2 linked regions of the Homo sapiens genome follow. The protein of the gene in region 1 purifies or fractionates together with the protein of each later gene. This does not show direct contact. Each region holds a gene or a part of one and is shown in the gene's direction. Other genes may lie near its edges.

Region 1 (3,892 bases):
CCAAAAGACAAAGTGTATATGAACAAAGACAATTTTTAAATGACCCCATTGTCAAGAAAATTTAACTGGCTTTGCTTTGCTTTGCTTTGCCTACATTGCAGATAGATTATCACTGCACTTTTATCACCAACTTTAAATTGTGGGCAGTACTAATTCATCACTGCTTTAGATCTCTTTCATCACCCACCGCTTCTAGGACCTTCTCATCTCTCAGCTATAGATACTGAGGTACAGAAATATCTTTTAATCTGGAGTCGATCTGTGCTCTAACTGGATGTCAAGATTGTCAAGTTAGATGTTTAACGCTAACATCTAACTCGAAATACATTAACAGGTAAAGGAATCCCATGCTTAATTAAAAAGCTAATCAATCTGTTGCCTTTTTCCAAGAGGTTAGGCCTAGTCCAGGGACGGCTCTGGTACTGATGGAGTTTGTGTATGATCACTAACTCATTAGACATGATGCTTGTATTTTTATTTCTAGCCCTGGTGCATACAACCCAGAGAAGAAGCCACCGCCAAAAATTGCCTGGCCAATGAAATTTGGATCTCCAGACTGGGCTCAGGTTCCATGTCTACAGAAAAGAACCCTAAAAGCTGAGGTAATAAGATTGGAACTTCTGTAGAAGACTCTTATTCGATCTAGTACTTTCATAGGTATTAGGGACTCTTAATTAGGGGTCTGTGAATGAACTTCAGGAAGTCCTTGGTCCCAAAAAATTATATGCACAATTTTGTGTGTATATGAATCTGAGGAACTTTTTGGAGAATTACACTATTTCATTAGATTCTTAAAGGTATATATGACTAAACAAAAGTGACATTTTCTTATTTGATCCTTAAATAACTTTTGTGGTAGGTACAGAGGAAATATCCCTACACAATAGAGGCCCAGATGGATTAAGTGATTTGTGCAGGTTTCACTACTGGAATCTGGATCTTGTGACTCCTAATACATTGCTCTTTCCGACATACCCCTTGAGTACTAGATCACTGAGGAGCCATAGAGAATTCAGCTAAGAGCATGGATTATGGGGACAAAACTGCCTGGATTCAAATACTAGCTGCAGTATTTACTTGTGTAATCTTGAGCAAATCTTTTGACTTTTCTAAGCCTCAGTTTTTTAATCTGTAAAATGGGTATTAAAATAGAATCAATCCGATAAGGTTATAAAGAAAATGTGGAAAATCATTTAACACAGTACTTGATAACATAGTAATTGTTCAATCTGTTAGCTATCATAATTCCAGAGGTGCTTTTTTCTTTCCTAGTGGAACTTTTCATTAATTCTACAATTATTTATTAAATGCCAAATGTATTAACATTATTGCATTAGGGCCTATGGGCAACAACTCAAGAATTAAACATATAGTCCTTGACTTCAAGAAGCCCACCAACTGCTTGGGGATTTACTAAGTAGTAAATAATTCCTAGCATGGTATACACTATAGTAAGATGATAAAGGGTAGATGTACATACAAATTTTGGGAGAATCACTAAGGCTAGATTACTATGGAGTTGGGATTCACCTCTATAATGTACAGTTTTTTTTTTTTTTTTTTTTGCATAACTGGGAAGACCAGAGGCAGAGGGTTCTCATTAGAATATTGATCTAGAAAACGTTCTTTCATTGCAGCTGTCCACAGACAAAGACTTTAGAAAGCATCGGAACCGTGTGGCCTACCTAAGCCTGTATTATAATTGAGCGGCTGTAACTACCTTCACGTGCTCCTCTTATACACAGACTCTCCAGGACTGAGGACAGAGCTGCTCTTCTTCTTCTACGTTACTGTGGCCCTCTTGTCTGGCAGCCTGGAGCCCAGGGAGGGACAGGGGCTTATAGCTGCTGTATGAGAACATAAAGACTAGTGCACAGTGCTATCTCCATCTACTGACTTGTGGTGTACACGTGCATGTCTGGGTCTGTGGGTTTCTGTTGGGTGCTGAGTTGGGTGATTTCATTTTAGTGAAATATTTGTGGGCCCCTGCTCTCTAGTTCTAATTCCCAGGAGCCAATTTTATATATTCTACCACTAGCCCTGGTCATAGGAGGCTGTTAGCCTATACATGTCAAGGGTTTGGATGGGATTTGGGCTTGCTAGATACAGAAAACACTTAAGGCAGATTAAAACATGTATTGGAGCTCTCCCAATTGTGTTGCTCAGTGTGGAGTGGGAAGGTCTTGATTTGGTTGACTTTCCCAGATTGACATAAAACTCAAAAACCAAAAAATTGCCCCTTTCCTATGACATCATCCATTTAGTCTGTGAGTCAACATATATACTGAGGTCCTACTATGTGTTGAGCAGAGCAGTAAGCACTGGGGATATGGCAGGAATCAAAATAAACTTATCTACTAAGTCCTTGGGCCTGGCCTGAAGTCAGAGGAGGACTCCCCAGGGCAGCTAGGGGATTGGGTCTGCCCTCCAATCTGAATGACCCCCTAGAACCTTACAAGTCATTCTGGGGTTATAAAGATCATAACATTTATAGCCCCAGACTGACTTGTAAGCAGCTGCATTTAAAGTACTTACTCAGACACTCAGGCCTGAGAGATAGACCCCTTTCTTTCCAGCACTAGCTGAAATAATCAAGTATATAGTTTGTTCAGGATTGGCACTAAATGTGATTTAATCTTTTAATAAAAGGGTCCTTTTGTACCCACTTAGGCTTCTTCGTAATTACCAGAAAGGTGATAAGCCTGCATGTGTCTGGACACCAAAGATTGAGAAGCTGCCAGTGGCTGCAAGAGAGCCTACTGTAACCCTCATGGCCACCCCCTGATGAGTGTTACCTGGGGAAAGGGCTAGCAAGAGGTGAAGCCTCCTGGTCATATGATGCTGGGGGTGCCTAATTCCTTAAAGGCCAAGGTCTTCTGAAATAATAATGGTGAAGGACAGAAAAGTCTTTATGAGAAATCACATAGGATATATTAAGATAATGATAAAGATACCTCAGCAAGAACATACCTAATATATACACTTCTTTTAATCTGATGACTTAATGATTTCTGTTATCAAGAAGTATTTATGACTTGAGATAAGTCAGGATTAACTGTTATCACCTCTCCTGTACACCTCCCTCCTTTTTCTCCTTTGTACCCACATGTGCAGATTTTTTCAGAGGTGACAATTTAGCATTTAATGTTTTTTTTTCTGCTTCAAGTTCTTAGGTCCCTTTGGAGGATATTGATGGGGGTGGAGGTGGGGATAGAACATCTTTCACACTGTTTGGTACAGAGACGCTCAAAGCTTTTCCCAGGGAAAGGAACTCTCTAAAATAGTAATCTGATTTGATGAAAGATAAAATTTTAATATAGCTTCAGTTAACCTTCAGGATACTTTAAATGCTACATTGTATATAAAAGTAATAAAGTACAAATGAACACGAAGACTAAAACATACTGTGCCATATTTATTTTACATCTAGACTTGGTTCGAGGAGTTTATAGTATTTTTAGGTCTTAATAGAGTTAAGCTTTATTATAATGCAGTTTTAGTGGGGTAAAGCTTCCAAAGTGACAGATTTATATAATACGTAGACTACATGACATATTGGAGGATGTAGTTTGACATGCAGACAACAGAATCTATGACACTAGGATTTTATGAGTATGTTTAAGGCCAGTTGCAACACTTACAGTTCTGCTCCAACCTTGGGCATACTTGAGGTGAAAGGTATTGCCTTCCACACACCAGTAGAACTTGTTATTATCTTCAGGATTACTATAAATGCCATCTGCTTTACCACTACAGAAAGCTCTGTCTCCCCTATTGCCCCCATCACTGCCGCCTTCTCCATCACTTCCCCCATCACTGCCACCTTCTCTACCACGGCCACTGCCTCTGCCAATATTAGCACAGAAGCCTTCACTTCTGGGTGTCACAGGTC
Region 2 (4,044 bases), on another chromosome or scaffold:
CCAGTTATTAAATGCTGTTATATGTGGAACTGTGTTTGCAATATTTTATTTACTGTTTTGAGAATTAGGTTGATGGTAAGATTTATTCAAATTCTTGATTTTAATAATGTATCAATACAACTTAATAATTTGATTTATTTGCAAGTTTTGAAAATCCACATATTCTAGTAGATCCTGAACTTAACTAAAAGTGTAAGAAATATTTCACATATAAAACATGATACAGGCTGGGTGCGGTGGCTCACGCCTGTAATCCCAGCACTTTGGGAGGCTGAGGCGGGCGGATCACGAGGTCAGGAGATCGAGACCATCCTAGCTAACACGATGAAACCCTGTCTCTACTAAATATACAAAAAATTAGTCGGGCGTGGTGGTGGGCGCCTGTAGTCCCAGGTACTCAGGAGACTGAGGCAAGAGAATGGCGTGAACCCGGGAGGCGGAGCTTGCAGTGAGCAAAGATCATGCCACTGCACTCCAGCCTGGGAGACAGAGCGAGACTCCGTCTCAAAAAAAAAATATATATATATATATATTTATATATTTATATTTATATATTTATATAGATATTTATATATTTATATATATTTATATATATATTTATATATATATTTATATATTATATATATTGTATTTAAACATTCTTTAAAATATTTATCATTTATCTCAACTAATAGAAAGTGATCTTATCACTTTTTATTATTCATAGACAGACTGAAATTTGTTTTAACTTAAATTCAACCAATGTTTTACTTAATTTTATTAATGTTTTTAAGTTACTCCACTGTCAAGCAAAGCATTTTAAAGTACACTGTGATGTATATACTTTCATAAGAAAAACGAAATGTAATTACATTTTGCAAGTAACACAAATTGGAAGCTGACATTGTCCTGACATGGCTGGCAGTGTCTGCTCCCTGCCAAGCTTCTCTGTATAGCCAATCAAGAGAGTTTATATGCAAAGTAGCAAATACATGGTGTTTTGTAATGCAGCTTTATTCTCACTGCCACTTGCCCTCCTAGAGGCCATGGGATGCACAAATTGTTTGTATGTAAGAGTCCTAGAAGATGTTAAAAACCCTTGTGTCTTATGTTCAGAGCTGTCAGCATGATCTAAGGCCCGAAATCGTAAGGTACAGTAGTGTACAGTAAATTTATATAAAGTCCTTTGATATAAATTGAAGTTGTCCAAATTCATTTCCTATAAAATGATAATATCCAAATTCTAGGTTTGCCTTTGATGTTGTTCCTTCCACTCATTTTTAAGTTGTTTTCATGTTTCACATTGCCAAATGGCACACTACCTGGAGTATGCCCTCTTGTTGAGACCATTCTTAGTTTGATATAGTGTCAAAGAAAAAAAGTGAGAATGTTGGGAATTTGGTTTGCTTTACAAGTTAGGATGAGTGGAGAGAACCCTCTTGACAGGATGAAGAAATCTGTGGAAGTATCATAGCGAACAATAACCACCTGCCTATTATCCAGTTTCCTGAATGATAAAAATTGTCTATGCATCCTGCCTCAAAGGCTTGACCATGGGGTGGTTTTCTCTTCTGACAGATTTAGCTGTTTCCAGTCACATTTGTTATCACTTTTGTGCGATCTTGCTGTTTAGCTCCTTTAAATCAGAAATACATTCTGCTTATGGGAAGACACACACACACAAACACACACACACACAGATTTATACTAAAATCACAAAAACCTTTTAAAATGTCTTGTGAAAATATATTAGCTATCTTTCTTAGAACAAACATAAAGAAGAATAGTAAATAAATGTGCAGTCCAGCACCAGTGTTGACATCTGTTGTGAAATGTGCTACATGGAGTAACCATTGTAGAGACAATCATCTTAGGCACCAAAATGACTTAGGAGCTTCTTTCTTTGTTCTTTCTTATCACTTACTATTTTTATTAGTTTAGCTTTTTCCAAACGTGTTTACTCAGAGATACCTATTTTAGTTAGGAAGAAAAAGAGAAATAACACCAATTAAAGCTAATTGAGGCTGAATTCTTGTCAGTCTTAAAAGAATCCTAATTGTTTCTCTTTGAACTGACTAATCCATAAAAGTTTTCTGAAGGGATGGGGTGTGGTTGTATTTGATAGCTTCCATTTGGATGATTTCTACTACCTTTTTTCTTGTTTGAGAACTATTAGAACGAACATGATCATTTTTTCAAGCTGGAGTGCGGTGGCACGATCTCAGCTCACTGCAACCTCTGCCTCCCAGGTTCAAGCGATTCTCCTGTCTCAGCCTCCCGAGTAGCTGGAACTACAGGCACCTGCCACCACACCCAGCTGATTTTTGTATGAACATGATCAATTTTATACACATAGAACATAGTAAAATGCTGATAATTATAAGTTGTTTGTTTACTCATTGTAGCTATTTACTGTGTGATCAACTGTGAAATTTTGTGCAACCCTCTCTCAGAATGGAAAAAAAAGAGGATTTAGTCTGAGTTTCTGAGAATAATTTTCCAAGTATATCTGGAAAGGTAAATTGATTTTAAAGGATATATAATTGATTAATTAAAACATCATTTCATAAAACTCATTTTATCATCCACTGTGAGAGCAGCTTCAAATGCCCTCAGATCTAAGTATCAAGCCAAGTGGTACAAATCATTTTCATGCAACTGAAGATACCATTTATGTTGGAATAGCCCCCAAAAACGAAAATACACGTGACCTGTTTAACTTTGTGCTAACTGTTACAATGTATGTGTGTTTTGTTTATTCTCTCATAGGTATGAGAAAGTGCCAGTCATCTTGGTTGGGAACAAAGTGGACCTGGAAAGTGAGAGAGAAGTATCGTCCAGCGAAGGCAGAGCCCTTGCTGAAGAGTGGGGCTGCCCCTTTATGGAAACTTCCGCTAAGAGTAAAACAATGGTGGACGAACTCTTTGCAGAAATTGTGAGGCAGATGAACTATGCTGCTCAGCCTGACAAAGATGACCCATGCTGTTCTGCATGTAACATACAATAGCATCCAAATATGGCTGTCCTGGATGGGATTTGCCCAATGTCGTAGGTGATAGAAAACTCGCCTACTCCACTGCAGAACTTGCAGAATGCGTGGTGTTAATCTACAGAGAACTGCAGCCCTTATTCAGAATTGAGCAGTGATTGTCAGTTGATATCTCTGAGTAACATTTGGGTTCAGTAACTACAGTTTTCACCATTTGTCCTCAGTCTCCTTTATGCATCTGCAACTTTAAGGCATAGTCCATCGATCTACAGGGTGATCTCATTTGAAAGCTATGATGGCATTGTCGCTGAGTTGACAGAAGCAACTATTGTACAAATTAAAAATAACCATAAGGGAGAAACCAGAAGAATTCCTCTGACCACTTACAATTAAAATATTTTGTCTTCTTTAAAAAAATAAGTAAAGGAGAAATATTTTCCTACAAGAGTACTGAATTTCAGGAAATGGGATAGAGCTTCTAACCAATGTATTCCGTCAAGTAAGATAATAACAGCTGACCTGCCAACAGCATTACAGGGAGATTCTTTGCTCAGCTAACACATTTCTGTTTTTCAAAATTGATGCTTAATTGTAGCTGTTATTCTAATTTGTGACATGGAACTAACTCATGCTTCAATCCTTGATAGAGCAAAACTCAGAACAGGTTATGTAAAAATATAGTCTGGCTTTAGAATTTGTTAATTCACCTGCTTTGCCACAGAAAATGGAGGCTTTCACAAGGGTTTGATCAGAATTAAAACCCCAAACCCGCCCTCTGTTAGGGGTGGTCTTTATAACTTTACTGAACAAGAGGGAAGCAACTGTGATGGGAAGAGATTACCTAGCCTTACTAACAAGAAGCATTCTAATAGATAAACTAGTACCATCATGTAAGGAAGATGAAGCCATGTTGCATCCACATGTTCCCGTTTGCAGAAACCTCACAGGACAGTACGAATATCTGGCATTTTTAAGTTCATTAAAGCAGCAAATTCCTTCTCGCCTTTAAGGGCTATGGTTGTAGTGTGACCCGTGGCTAACCTGCTTTCAAAATCAAGTATTTGCTGTAGCAGAGC

Evidence for each region.
Region 2: the proteins of CIMAP3 (region 1) and RAP2A purify together in Homo sapiens (affinity purification with mass spectrometry, with the first as the bait; one large-scale study listed by BioGRID). This does not show direct contact.

The regions. Positions count from the first base shown.
Region 1 is NC_000001.11:111,349,622-111,353,513, forward strand, and holds the end of CIMAP3 (ciliary microtubule-associated protein 3), read left to right. Parts: intron 1-484; coding exon 485-602; intron 603-1,637; coding exon 1,638-1,706; 3' UTR 1,707-3,392; downstream 3,393-3,892. UniProt on the Homo sapiens protein: During primary cilia disassembly, involved in cilia disassembly. Required specifically to control cilia retraction as well as the liberation and duplication of the basal body/centrosome.
Region 2 is NC_000013.11:97,461,457-97,465,500, forward strand, and holds part of RAP2A (ras-related protein Rap-2a), read left to right. Parts: intron 1-2,748; coding exon 2,749-2,986; 3' UTR 2,987-4,044. UniProt on the Homo sapiens protein: Small GTP-binding protein which cycles between a GDP-bound inactive and a GTP-bound active form. In its active form interacts with and regulates several effectors including MAP4K4, MINK1 and TNIK.